2 linked regions of the Homo sapiens genome follow. The protein of the gene in region 1 purifies or fractionates together with the protein of each later gene. This does not show direct contact. Each region holds a gene or a part of one and is shown in the gene's direction. Other genes may lie near its edges.

Region 1 (7,026 bases):
ATTCATCCCCAGTGGAGAGAGTGGAGCTGGGAAGACAGTGGCAGCCAAATATATCATGGGCTACATCTCCAAGGTGTCTGGCGGAGGCGAGAAGGTCCAGGTGAGACGAGGAAAACAGAAGGATAAGCTGGGTCGCCCTCACCTGCATGGTAGTGCAGCCCCACCCATCTGCACTCCTGCCTCAGTCTGACTTCTTCCCACTCCACCTGCCTCTGCCCCAGCACGTCAAAGATATCATCCTGCAGTCCAACCCGCTGCTCGAGGCCTTCGGCAACGCCAAGACTGTGCGCAACAACAATTCCAGCCGCTTTGTAAGTCTCTGCAGACCTGCTTGGAGCAGCTGCTCCCTCCGTGCTGACCTTTCTACACACACACCCACACATACACACACCCGTATTGCCAAGACAAGAGTCCATTGAAAACCCAGCAGGAAATACCTACTCCTGAAGGGGAGACTCACTTCCTGCTCATGGTCCCTTTCAAAAGAGAGTCCCCCATTGGCAGAACTGTGGAGGCCATGACACCCCTGTGTAACATTCTTAAATGCTCCCCCGGCTGCAGCCATGCTACATTGTTCCCATTCACATTTCAGGTCCAATTTATTCCCTCATCCATTCCTTCTTTCGACAATAGTTCTGGGACTCGTTCTTTGTGTGGGTGCTGCGCTGGGCCCAGTGAAAGTCAGGATAGGTAAACAGATATGGATTCAGGGTTTGATTCTATCACTGTGAGCTGTGTAGCCTGGGGGGGAAAAAAATCTATGCAACTTCCTGAGTTTCCTCTGTTTGCTCATCCATAAAATGGTGACGATGTTAATATCCATCTCATAGACTTCAGTATTACACCTGCACATGGACATGGTTTAATAAATTCCATACCCTTGGGCTGGGTGTGGGGGCTCACATCTGAAATCCCAGCACTTTGGGAGGCTGAGACAGGCGGATCACTTGAGGTCTGGAGTTCAAGACCAGCCTGGCCAACATGATGAAAAATACAAAAATTAGCTCTGCCAAAAATACAAAAATTAGCTGGGCATGGTGGCGGGTGCCTGTAGTCCCAGCTACTCAGGAGGCTAAGGCAGGAGAATCACTTGAACCCAGGAGGTGGACGTTGCAGTGAGCCGACATTGCGCCACTGAATCCCAGCCTGAGCAACAGAGTCAGATTCTGTCTCAAAAAAAAAAGGAAGAAGGGAAGAGAGGCAAGGCTCATAAGACCCATCCCCAACCCTTCCCCCACCTGCACCCCAGGACACTGGGGTGCTGACATGGTTCTCTCGGATTCAGGGCAAGTACTTTGAGATCCAGTTCAGCCGAGGTGGGGAGCCAGATGGGGGCAAGATCTCCAACTTCTTGCTGGAGAAGTCCCGCGTGGTCATGCAAAATGAAAATGAGAGGAACTTCCACATCTACTACCAGGTGCAGGGAAGGGGCCGGGGGAGAGGGAGCACCACCTGGAGCCCAGCGGGGTGGACAATGGGAAGGTAAACACCTAGGGGGGCATGGCAGGGCAGATGAGGGATCACAGGGGCTGAGCCAGGCAAGCACCAGATGCATGAACATGGCACACCCTCCAGCTGCTGGAAGGGGCCTCCCAGGAGCAAAGGCAGAACCTGGGCCTCATGACACCGGACTACTATTACTACCTCAACCAATCGGACACCTACCAGGTGGACGGCACGGACGACAGAAGCGACTTTGGTGAGACTCTGGTGAGCACCGGCCTCTACTCCAGTCCCCGGCCAGGCAGACCTCAGCCCCAGAAACCCTCCTGAGTTACAAATTAGGAAACCGAAGCCCAGGCCAGGCATGTGGCTCAAGCCTGTAATCCCAGCACTTTGGGAGGCCGAGGCAGGTAGATCACTTAAGGTCAGGAGTTTAAGACCGGCCTGGCCAACGTGGTTAAACCCCGTCTCTACTTAAAATACAAAAATTAGCCAGATGTGGTGGCGTGTGACTGTAATCCCAGCTACTGGGGAGGCAGAGGCAGGAAAATTGCTTGAAAACGGGAGGTGGAAGTTGCAGTGAGCCGAGATCACACTACTGCACTCCAGCCTGGGCAACAGAGTGAGACTACATCTCAAAAAAAAAAAAAAAAAAGGCCAGGCACGGTGGCTCACACCTGTAATCCCAGCACTTTGGGAGGCCGAGGCAGGTAGATCACCTGAGGTCAGGAGTTCAAGACCAGCCTGGCCAACATAGTGAAACCCCATCTTTATTAAGAATACAAAGATTAGCCGGGTATGATGCCATGCGCCTGTAGTCCCAGCTACTAGGGAGGCTGAGGCAGGAGAATCGCTTAAACCCGGGAGGTGGAGGTTGCAGTGAGCCAAGATAGCGCCGCTGCACTCCCGCCTGGGTGAAAGAGTGAGACTCTAAAAAAAAAAAAATAGGAAACCAAAGCCCAGTCCGGACACGACGCTCACGCCTGTAATCCCAGCTACTCGGGAGGCGGAGGCAGGAAAATCGCTTGAACCTGGGATGAGGAGGTTGCAGTGAGCCAAGATCATACCACTGCACTCCAGCCTGGGCAACAGAGGGAGACTCTGTCTCAAAAATAAAAAATATAATAAAAAACAAAGCCCAGAGAGGTGCAGGCACTTACCCAAGGTCACGCGGCAAGTGACTGAAAGGGGTAGGACAGGGACCCAAGGGTGCTCACTCCCTGAGTCCGTGCTGTGGTCCCTCAAGCCTGCCCCTGGAGGCAGGTTGGAGGCCAGGATTCACGGCACAGTTTCTGCCCCCGTTGTACCACAGAGTGCTATGCAGGTTATTGGGATCCCGCCCAGCATCCAGCAGCTGGTCCTGCAGCTCGTGGCGGGGATCTTGCACCTGGGGAACATCAGTTTCTGTGAAGACGGGAATTACGCCCGAGTGGAGAGTGTGGACCGTGAGTGTGGGTATCAGGGAGGGCTGGATGGAGGCCTGTGGGTGGGTGAACTGCGTCCTCCTAGCTCAGCCCCCAGGAAGCTGAAAGCCCACGAGGAAAAAAATGTGGGTGTCACTGGGCAAGATGGGGATAATAGGAGGCCCATGCAGGAGGCACAAGAGCCCAACCAACTGTCCCATTTTTGCCCTGACCTTTGCCCTGGTAGTCCTGGCCTTTCCCGCCTACCTGCTGGGCATTGACAGCGGGCGACTGCAGGAGAAGCTGACCAGCCGCAAGATGGACAGCCGCTGGGGCGGGCGCAGCGAGTCCATCAATGTGACCCTCAACGTGGAGCAGGCAGCCTACACCCGTGATGCCCTGGCCAAGGGGCTCTATGCCCGCCTCTTCGACTTCCTCGTGGAGGCGAGTGGGGCTGGGGCTGGAAGGCAGAGTGGATGCTCTGGGGTCACAAACATTTATGGAAGCTGAGTGCAGTGGCTCACGGCTGCAATCCCAATGCTTTGGGTGGCTGAGTTGGGAGCATTCTTTGAGGCCAGAAGTTCAAGACCAGCCTGGGCAACATAGCAAGACCCCCATCTCTACAGAAATTTCAAATTAGTTGGGTGTAGTGGTGTGCATGTGTAGTTCTGGCTACTCAGAGGGCTGAGGTTGGGGGATCATTTGAACCCAGGAGGTTGGGGCTGCAGTGAGCTATGATTGCGCTATTGTACTCCAGCCTGGGTGACAGAGCAAGACCCTGTCTCTAAAAAAAACTTTTGGCCAGATGCAGTGGCTCATGCCTGTAATCCCAGCACTTTGGGAGGCTGAGGTGGATGGATCACTTGAGGTCTGGAGTTTGAGACCAGCCTGGCCAACATGGTGAAACCCCCTCTCTACTAAAAATTACCCGGGAGTGGTGGCACATGCCTTTAATCCCAGCTACTTGGGAGGCTGAGGGAGGAGAATCACTTGAACCTGGGAGGTGGAGGTTGCAGTGAGCTGAGATCGTGCTATTGTATTCCAGCCTGGGCAACAGAGAGAGACTCTGTCTCAAAATAAATAAATAAATAAAATAAAAACTTTTTTAATGTATGGAGTCAGCCTGGGCAACATGGCAAAACCCTGTCTCTACAAAAATACAAAAATTAGCCGGGCATGGTGGCTGGTGCCTGTAATCCCGGCTACTCAGGAGGCTGAGGTGGAAGAATCCCTGACCCCAGGAGGTTGAGGCTGTAGTGAGCCATGATCAAGCCACTACACTCCAGCCTGGACAACAGACTGAGACCCTGTCTCAAAATAAAAAATAAAAATAAATAAAGTATAAAATGTATGGCCAGGTGCAGTGGCTCATGCCTGTAATCCCAGCACTTTGGGAGGTCAAAGCGGGCAGATCACCCAAGGTCAGGAGTTCAAGATCAGCCCTGGCCAGCATGGCAAAACCCCGTCTCTACTAAAAATACAAGAATTAGCCGGGCGTGGTGGCGCATGCCTGTAATCCCAGCTACTTGGGAGGCTGAGGCAGAAGAATCTCTTGAATCCTGGAGGCAGAGGTTTCAGTGAGCCGAGATTGCGCCACTGGCATTCCAGCCTGGGCAACAGAATGAGACTCCATCTCAAAAAAAATAGAAAAGAAAAAGCCCCATAAGGTAGTTGCTATTATCAACCCCTTTTAAAGATAAGAAAATAGAGGTGCAAGGCCGGGCGCAGTGGCTCACACCTGTAATCCCGGCACTTTGGGAGGCCGAGGCGGGCGGATCACGAGGTCAGGAGATCGAGACCACAGTGAAACCCCGTCTCTACTAAAAATACAAAAAATTAGCCGGGCGTGGTGGCAGGCCCTTGTAGTTCCAGCTACTTGGGAGGCTGAGGCAGGAGAATGGTGTGAACCCTGGAGGCGGAGCTTGCAGTGAGCCGAGATCATGCCACTGCACTCCAGCCTGGGCGACAGAGTGAGACTCCGTCTCAAAAAAAAAAAAGAAAAAAAAAAAAAGAAAATAGAGGTGCAGAGAGGTTCAGGGGCAGAGTCAGCTCTGGAGTCAGGGACCCTGATACACTGACACTTGGGTTTCTCCTCTGAGTGACTGATTATGGGGTGGGGAGACTGTACACAGAGCCAGGAAGGGCAGAGCTAAAGAGGGCTGGAGGGAAACTGGCATGAGGGGACATCACCCATGAAGTTGGCTAGGCGTGTGTCTAAGGAGTGGTGGGCAGGGGCTTCAGATCTGACCGATGCCCACTGACTTCCTGTCCCCACCCACACCGCAGGCCATCAACCGTGCTATGCAGAAACCCCAGGAAGAGTACAGCATCGGTGTGCTGGACATTTACGGCTTCGAGATCTTCCAGGTACGGCCCCCTGCCTCCAGCCCACATCCTGTCCTCCCTGGGGCAGCCCAGGGTGGCCACAAGAACTTCCAGCACCAGGACATTGAGGGAAGGACCCTTTTCCTCCTTCTGCAGAAAAATGGCTTCGAGCAGTTTTGCATCAACTTCGTCAATGAGAAGCTGCAGCAAATCTTTATCGAACTTACCCTGAAGGCCGAGCAGGTGGGCGGCCAAGCAGTCAGGGATGGGGGATCCTGGGGTGGGGGTGGGGTGGAAGGACCATGAGGATCCCTTAGCAACTAGGGGACACCCCAGCCCTCCCCACCGCGTTCCCACCTCTCTGTGCCAACCTACCCAGGCTCCATAGTGATACTTCCTTCTGCCTCTAAAGCTTTGGGAAGGACCGTGCCTCTTAGTTCATTCATTCAGCAATTATTTATTGAGCACCTGTTGTGTGCCAGGTACTGTTTAGGGTGCTTGGAGACACAGCCATGAACAATAAGGCAATAGTCCCTGCTGTCTTCATTTTGCCCCTCCCCCAGAAGCAGAGCCTGAGGCAAGGATTCAGAGACAAATGGTTTTTCTGGGAGGCAATCCCAGGAAGCTCCAAGAGGAGACTGAGGAAGTAAGTCAGGGATTTTTTTTTTTTTTTTTGAGACAAAGTCTCGTTCTGTCACCCAGGCTGGAGTGCAGTGGCATGATCTCGGCTCACTGCAACCTCCGCCTCCAGAGTTCAAGTGATTCTCCTGCCTCAGCCTCCCGAGCAGCTGGGACTACAGGCACCCACCACCATGCCCAGCTAATTTTTGTATTTTTAGTAGAGACAGGGTTTCATCATATTGGCCAGACTGGTCTCAAACTCCTGACCTCGTGATCCACCCACCTCAGCCTCCCAAAGTGCTGGGATTACAGATGGGAGCCACCATTCCCCGCTTTTTTTTTTTTTTTTTTTTTTTTGAGACAGGAACTCGCTCTGTTGTCCAGGCTGGAGTGCAGTGGTGTGATCACAGGTCACTGCAGTCTACACCTCCTGGGCTCAAGCAATCCTCCCACTTCAGCCTCTCAAGTAGCTGGGACCGCAGGCACACACCATCATGCCTGGCTAATATTTTAAAACTTTTTTGTAGAGTTGGTGTTTCACTTTGTTGCCCAGATTGGTCTTGAACTCCTGGCCTCAAGCAATCCTCCTGCCTTGGCCTGCCAAAGTGCTGGGACTACAGGCATGAGTTAATATGCCCAGTCCTGAGACAGGGATTTTTTTAACAAAGAGAGAGAGAGAGGCTGGGTGCAGTGGCTCACGCCTGTAATCCCAGCACTTTGGGAGGCTGAGGTGGGTGGATCACCTGAGGTCAGGAGTTTGAGACCAGCCTGGCCAACATGGTGAAACCCCATCTCTACTAAAAATATAAAACTTAGCCAGGTGTGGTGCTGGGCACCTGTAATCCCAGCTACTCAGGAGTCTGAGGCAGGAGAATTGCTTGAACCCAGGAGGCAGAGCTTGTAGTGAGTCGAGATTGTGCCATTGCACTCCAGCCTGGGCAACAGCAGAATGAGACCCTGTCTCAAAAAAGAAAAGAAAAAAAGAGAGAGACAGACCGAGCCAGACACAATCACTCACACCTATAGTCCCAGCTATCTAGGAGGCTAAGTTAAGAGGATCGCTTGAGCCTGGGGGTTCAAAGCCAGCCTGGACAACATAGTGAGACCTCATCTCTACAAAAAACATAAAAATTAGCCAGGCATGGTGGTGTGCTCCTACGGTCCCAGCTACTCGGAAGGCTGAGATGAGAGGATCACTTGAACCCTGGAGGTCAAGGTTGCAGTGAGCTAGGAT
Region 2 (7,026 bases), on another chromosome or scaffold:
TTGGCTATTCTTTTTGAATCCTTTAGAATACCGGCCAAAACCCTTGTTCCTGGAAGCTCTGTAGAACAGTGGGTAGAATGTGGTCAGTCAGCCTCACTGCATGGGTCCCTCTCGCTTGAAAGACTGGACACTTCCTTTCCTCTCTCAGGCTTAGAAAGGTTACTGGAAAACAGCAGTAATATAAAAACAAAACCACTGTCTAATCTTACAGAAGGAAAGATCAGAATTTGCTCCTCTAGCTTAGCTTTTCACAAGGTCTTCTTTTATGATTTGCATTTTAAGTTTAATGCAAACTATTAGATTCAAGAGAAAGCCAACATTTGCCAAAGTTAGTGATTCCATTGATACTTTTTCTGTTGTAATCAATAATAATGACAAATTGAATTTTTAGATGTATTTCTTCCTGGACAAAAATTTATCACCCACCGCTTTTCTACCTCTCTCTATAACAAAAGAAATAAACTCAACAACAATAAGAAATGAAGATCTCAACAAATTAAATAGCAGTGCCAAAGGAAAATTTGTAACTGTCTACTAAAAAGAAGCCTATCTTATTTCAGCTAATAAACATGTTAGTTATATGAATGAAAAGTATTATAGTGAATGTAAAAATATTCCTCTAAGTGTCATATGAAAATGCAAAAGCCAAAACTATTAGAAAAAGTATATTTTCCTAAATAATTCCACTTTTTAGATTCTTAAGTTTTTCTATTTTATAAATTTTACAAAATGTGTTAACATTTTCTTGAAGGTTCTTCTGAAGAATCTCTCTTTTATAAAATTATTGTACCTAGATTTGTCAGGCTTCTAATTTTCGTTCTTAAAAGGTATCTTTTCTCTTTGAATTTCAGATATAGTGGAAATGCTATTTACTCAACCAAATATTGAACTGAACCAGCAGGTAAGACTGCTTATTTGAAAATTATTTAACACATACCTGCTTGTTGTCTTTAGTACAGAGCAACTCATGGGCATGTGAAGTATTGTAGTCAAAATCCCACAAGCACATAATTTAAAAATTATAATTGTACTAAAATTCAAATTATCCACAGCCCCAAGTGCCAAACCCACTCCTCCTCATATGTCACTTTCAGCTTTTAGCTCTTTCTTCCTGTACTTACCTTTGTGTTACTAAGGAATAGGCTGACGGAGCTATCTCGCCATGCATTGTCTTCATGTGTACTTTGGCCTCCTGTTGGGTATGTGAAGGGTTAAGCTTGTCAGCTGCCCCAGCTCTCATCTTTCAGCACCCCAGCACCAAGCCTGTTCTCCTCTGCTCCTCAGTGTACTTCATCACAGTTTTTGGTTATATTACTATATAATATTTACTTTATTATGGGTGTCTAAATAGTGTTCACTGCTTATATAACCTTTTTTTGTTTCTGTACTTACTTTTTAAAACTCATTTTTTGTTATCTCACTGTGACTTCTCTACTGTTTTATACAGTCTTGATATATAATACTTTTCCAAAATGTGTAAGATAATCAACAGCTTTCTTTTTTCTCCCTGGATTCATTACTTCCTGAAGCTCTCCATCATTCTCCAGTCTGAGCAGCTTGGTCCCTGTGGCCCTTTGCTGTCCTCCAGGGAACCCCTTCCGTTCTCTGCCATGTTGCATCTTCATTTTTCTGGATCCCTTGTCTTTCTTTTGTCAGAGAACATCTTCAAGTAGATTCCTGAGAAAGAGAAGCTTGGGATTGATTATATGGCTGATCAGAATTCTAGGTCAAAAACAGTTTCCCTTAGAATTTTGAAGGCATGGCTCTGTGGCATTCTTGTTTCCAGGGTTGCTTTTGAGAGATTTGGTGCCATTTTGATTCCCATTCTTTTATGTATGATCTGCTTTTTCTCTTGCTAAGAGTATTTACTTTATTGTTGGTGTTTTCAAATTTTATGATGATGTGCTAGCATTCATCTCTTCCCAATGATTATGATGAACTCTTTCAGCCTGGAAAATTATCTTGTATTTCTTTTAGAATTTTTATCTGACCCTTCTTTGTTCTTTTGGTTCTGGAATGCCCATTAGTAGGATGTTGGACTTCTTGGATTGAACCTTCAGTTTTCTTAATTTTTCCCAGAGATATTCTCACCTTTGTTTTATTTTGGTTATCTTTTTAATTCCCCAGAGTTCTGTATTAGTTTTCTATTGCTGCCTAGCAAACGACCACAGGCTTAGCAGCTTATACTTTCTGTACGTCAGAATTCTGGGCATGGCATAGCTGCGTTCTCTGCTCAGGGTCTCCCAGGTGGAAATCAAGGGATTGGCTGGAGCTGGATTCTCATCTGGAGCTTGGGGTCTTCTTCCAAGTGCATTTAGGTTGTAGGAAGAATTGATTTTCTTCTAACTGTAGTATTACTGAGGCCCTCAGCTTTTAGAGGCCACCCCTCTCTGTAGACAGCTCACAGTATGGCTGTTTGCTTTCTTCCTCAAGGCCAGAAGGAGATTGTCTCTCTGCTGTTTCATTGTTTTTATTTTTTAGGGGCCCACCTGGTTAGGTCAGGCCCACCTGGGATAATGTCCCTTTTGAAGAATTCAACATCCGCTGACTAGAAACCTAATTATGGGAGTGATAGCCTGTTACATTCACTGCTTTCACTTGCAGTCAAGAGGAGGGGGCCTGTACCAGGGCCAGGAACCTTGGGGGCCATTCTTAGAATTCTGTTATAAGCCCTTATTTTACTCTGATTGTTACTTTTACGTAGTATCTTTTTCTTGTTTCATGACACAATATGATCTTATATCTTGCTGATATAATATTTATAACTTTTCAAACTATGTTTTTTGGCTCTTCACTGTACTGTGTTTTTTCCCTTTGAGATCCATTTATTTTGTTTGTTTTGGTCTTTACTAAAATATTGTAGGCTTTCCACGAACACTTGGTGTCATTATCCATTCATTATTATTTTTTTAATTTGAGATGGAGTCTCGCTCTGTTGTCCAGGCTGGGGCGTAGTGGCGCAATCTCAGCTCACTGCAACCTCTGCCTCCCGGGTTCAAGCTATTCTCCTGCCTCAGCCTCCCAAGTAGCTGGGACTACAGGCCCATGCCACTGGCCTGGCTTATTTTTGTGTTTTTAGTAGAGACGGGGTTTCACCACGTTAGCCAGGCTGGTCTCGAACTCCTGACTTCAGGTGATCCGCTCTCCTCGGTCTCCCAAAGTGCTGAGATTACAGGTGTGAGCCACCATGCCTGGCCCTTATCCATTCATTTTTAGGTGTGATTGGAAGCTGTGTGTGCTTGGTGAGGCCTGCTGGCGGTTGGGCTTCTCCATAGGGTGATGTGGTGAGGTCCTGGCTATTTTGCTAGGTGACACCCAAATGCTAATGAAAGTGACACTCCTTCCCTTCCCTGCACATGGGGCTGCACTGCTTCACCAGAGAAGTGCCCTCCAGTCTCCTGCCTGGGGGTATGTGCACACTGGGCAGTGGGGTACGTAAAGGTACCTGAGAGAGGGGTCTTACTGTTCAGTCTGTAGGTTTTTTACCTAACCCTCAGGTTTGAGTTTCTGGCCTTTTGCTACTTCTCTTGTACCTAGTGTTCATGAACTTGGAAACTATCAGGTTAATTTCTCAACAAGTAAATCTGTCATCATTATTGGGTCATCTGGCAGCAAGAGAAGGGGAAGAGGTTCTGAGATTCTACTTTTTATGAGTACTTTAAACCAATATCTCTGTTTTCCCACCCATGCCTCATGCCTGCCCTAGCACCTCCAGGAATCTCCAATTCCTAATTTTTGCCAGGCTTCTGCATGTTCAAATCTGCTTCCTTCCTCCTGGATCTCCCTCCGCAGGCATGTGCTTTTCAGCTCGTGCTCCACCAAGTCAGCTTGTACTCCTCCATCCTATTCCATCTCCCAAAAATGACTCCTCTCCCATCTCTTGAGTCTCCTTTCCTTTTCTCTTTGGAATTTTATGTGGTTCTATAACTTTGTTCCCATTTTAGGTTTAACTTTTAGGTTTAACTGGGTTAAACCTGAATTAACATGTACTTTCAATCCACCCTCTATCTTAAAAATGGTACTTTCTCTTTTTATCACTATAGAACAAGTTGGGAGATACAGCTTTGCATGCTGCTGCCTGGAAGGGTTATGCAGATATCGTCCAGTTGCTTCTGGCAAAAGGTAAAGTTTGTGCTGAGTTTATCTGGTCTTTGCTTGCCCTGAAAAATAGTCTATATCAACTTACGCCATTTGAAATGGTAGGAAGAATAATAGTCTTATTTCAAAATAGGGTTTAACCTTTGCTCTGCCTGTGTATCATGGAATAGTTATGATAAAATAAAATTATTGGGGGTTGGTTTGTGTTAGTTTTTAATATAAACTAAAACCATGGCAAGCTTTAACATTACATATATTACTTTTAGTAAGAACTGTATTGTATGTTTCTGCAGGATTATAGAGCCTTAGAAACAAAGAATGTATGTGTACACGTGTGTTGGGGAGATCCTGTCTGAGAAAGCTGTATAGGTAAAGTTGCTGAGGCCCCTGTTCTCACAGGGAAGTCTTGACAGATAAGCAAGAATGATGCGGCTGCAATGTCCTGCTTTGAGCTGAGCAGGTGCTAGATGTAAAGTGAACGAGAGAGGATATCTTGATCCCCTGTTTTTATAAGTCAGAGGAAACAGTGAATTTATAAACTGACTATCCCTTTATCCTTTTGTCCCACAAATATTAGTTTACTCTTAGAGAAGGCCAGGCAGATCACCTATACCATACTCTAGTCCAGAAGCCTATCATGTAGGATGCTTGAGTCCCCAAGACACTTGTCATGGAATTACCCTCATTAGGGATCCTCAGAGCAATATTGTGGGATATATGATAGGAAATGGTTTAGATTTTAAGTATGCTGGTGATGTAAGCTGCAGGTCTAAAAGGCCAGACATTATGAGGATCACTCTAGTGCCCTGTAAAGGGTATACTGATGACTTTGATGCCTAATATGGCAGCCACTAGCCACGTGCACAACTGAGCCCTTTAAATGGGGCTATCTGAATTGAGATGTGCTGTAAGTGTAAAATGCATACCAGATTTCAAAGACTTAGTGAAACAAAAAGTAAAACATCACAGTAATTTTCATGTTGGTTATGTGTTGAAATGATAATATTTCAGATATGCTGGGTTAAATAAAATATATAATTAAAAATAATTTCACATTTTGCAAATGTGGCTGTTAGAAAATTAAAAATTATATATGTGGATCACATTATATTCCTATTAGTGCTCATCTAAAGGGACCCAGGAAATAGTTGTGTTTCTTCTTTATCATCACTGTCTCTGAATATTTCCTGTTCTGATAGAAATCATGTCTATGAGCTCTAAAGTATAATATAGTATATGATTAGTCACAGAACTGTTAACCCTCAGGAGTTTTTGATCTGTAGCACACTGAGAGAATGAGGTTTTATATAACCCTACTGTGAATAGAATGATCTGCTTAGGAGAAAGATTTTGACACAAGATCATTATATTACTAATTAAACATACTATTTTTTTTCTTGATGCAATATTTCTTTGCCTTTAAATTTGGGGACACTTCTTTCTTTCTTTCTTTCTTTCTTTCTTTTTTTTTTGAAACTGGGTCTCTATTGCCCAGGCTGGAATGCAGTGGCATGATCTCGGCTCATTGCAACCTCCGCCTCCAGGGCTCAAGTGATTCTCCCACCTCAGCCTCCTGAATAGCTGAAATTACAAACGTGCACCACCACACATGGCTAATTTTTGTAGAGATGGAGTTTCGCCATGTTACCCAGTCTGGTCTTAAACTCCTGAACACAAGCGATCCGCCTGCCTCAGCCTCCCAAAGTGCTGGGATTACAGGCGGATGAGCTACTGTGCTGGCCTATTTTTGTTTATTGAAGGGGAAGTGGTTGCAAAAAAAATATGATACTTTCCTACACTGTGGCAGAAAGTATGAACTGACAAAGCCTTCTTTTTTTGTTTTTTTGGTTTTCTTTGAGACTGTCTGGCTCTATTGCCCAGGTTGGAGTGCAGTGGCGCAATCTTGGCTCATTGCAGTCTCCGCCTCCTGGATTCAAGTGATTCTCATGCCTCAGTCTCCCAAGTAGCTGGGATTACAGGCATGCGCCACCACACTTGGCTAATTTTTGTATTTTTAGTAGAGATGGGCCATGTTGGTCAGGCTGGTCTTGAACTCCTGACCTCAAATGATCTGCCCGCCTTGGCCTCCTAAAGTGCCAGGATTACAGGCGTGAGCCACCGTGCTTGGCCTAAAGCCTTCTTGGAAAGCAATCTTAAAATCAGAGATGAAAAAGGAGGTATTACAACTGATACCACAGAAATTCAGAGGATCATTAGAGACTAGTATGAAAAGCAATCTGACAGTAGCTGTCAGAATTTAAAATGGACTTAGCCTGACTTTCCAATACCATTTTTAGTAAACCATTCTTCAGAAATACGTGTGAACAAAGATGTTGTTCAAGGATGTTCACTGGAGTATTTGTGATAATGAAAATTAGGAGTAGCCTAAGTGCCCGTCAATACAGGAGTAATTAAATTTTGGAGCACCACAAAATGGAATACTTAAATGGTTGAGTTACAAATATGTGTATTTGCTAAGAAAACAGTACCATTAGACATTAAAGTTTTAAAAACATGAAATCACAGACCAATACGTGTAGTACGATTTTGTGTCTATATCAATATGTGTATGAATGCACTGATGCAAATAAGGGAGATAAGAACTCACACCCACTTGTTAAGAATGGTTACCTTAGGCGTAGGTAGAAGATGAAGGAATGAAATGGGACTTGTGCTTTTGTTCAGCATACATTTGTATTTTTGAATCCTTAACAATGCAAATGTATTCATGAATTCTGATGTAATTTTGAACACAATAAAGGCAAAGGAAAAGTGGGTAGAAGATGGCTTATGGGAATAATGAATTGCCTCTTGGTTTTACGTGTTGCTATTCTGTTAATTTGCATGAGAGCAGACTTACAGATATAAAATATTAATCCCCTCAAGCACTATCCACTTGGTCTTTTCTAAAGACCCTCTTGAGCAAAA

Evidence for each region.
Region 2: the proteins of MYO1F (region 1) and OSTF1 purify together in Homo sapiens (affinity purification with mass spectrometry; 2 studies listed by BioGRID and IntAct, with this or other methods). This does not show direct contact.

What each region holds. Positions count from the first base shown.
Region 1 is NC_000019.10:8,546,424-8,553,449, reverse strand, and holds part of MYO1F (unconventional myosin-If), read left to right. Parts: intron 1-12; coding exon 13-100; intron 101-221; coding exon 222-311; intron 312-1,285; coding exon 1,286-1,417; intron 1,418-1,575; coding exon 1,576-1,710; intron 1,711-2,755; coding exon 2,756-2,888; coding exon of another isoform or gene 2,889-2,894; intron 2,895-3,093; coding exon 3,094-3,290; intron 3,291-5,132; coding exon 5,133-5,213; intron 5,214-5,327; coding exon 5,328-5,414; intron 5,415-6,124; exon of another isoform or gene 6,125-7,026. UniProt on the Homo sapiens protein: Myosins are actin-based motor molecules with ATPase activity. Unconventional myosins serve in intracellular movements. Their highly divergent tails are presumed to bind to membranous compartments, which would be moved relative to actin filaments.
Region 2 is NC_000009.12:75,133,495-75,140,520, forward strand, and holds part of OSTF1 (osteoclast-stimulating factor 1), read left to right. Parts: intron 1-851; coding exon 852-901; intron 902-4,043; coding exon 4,044-4,122; intron 4,123-7,026.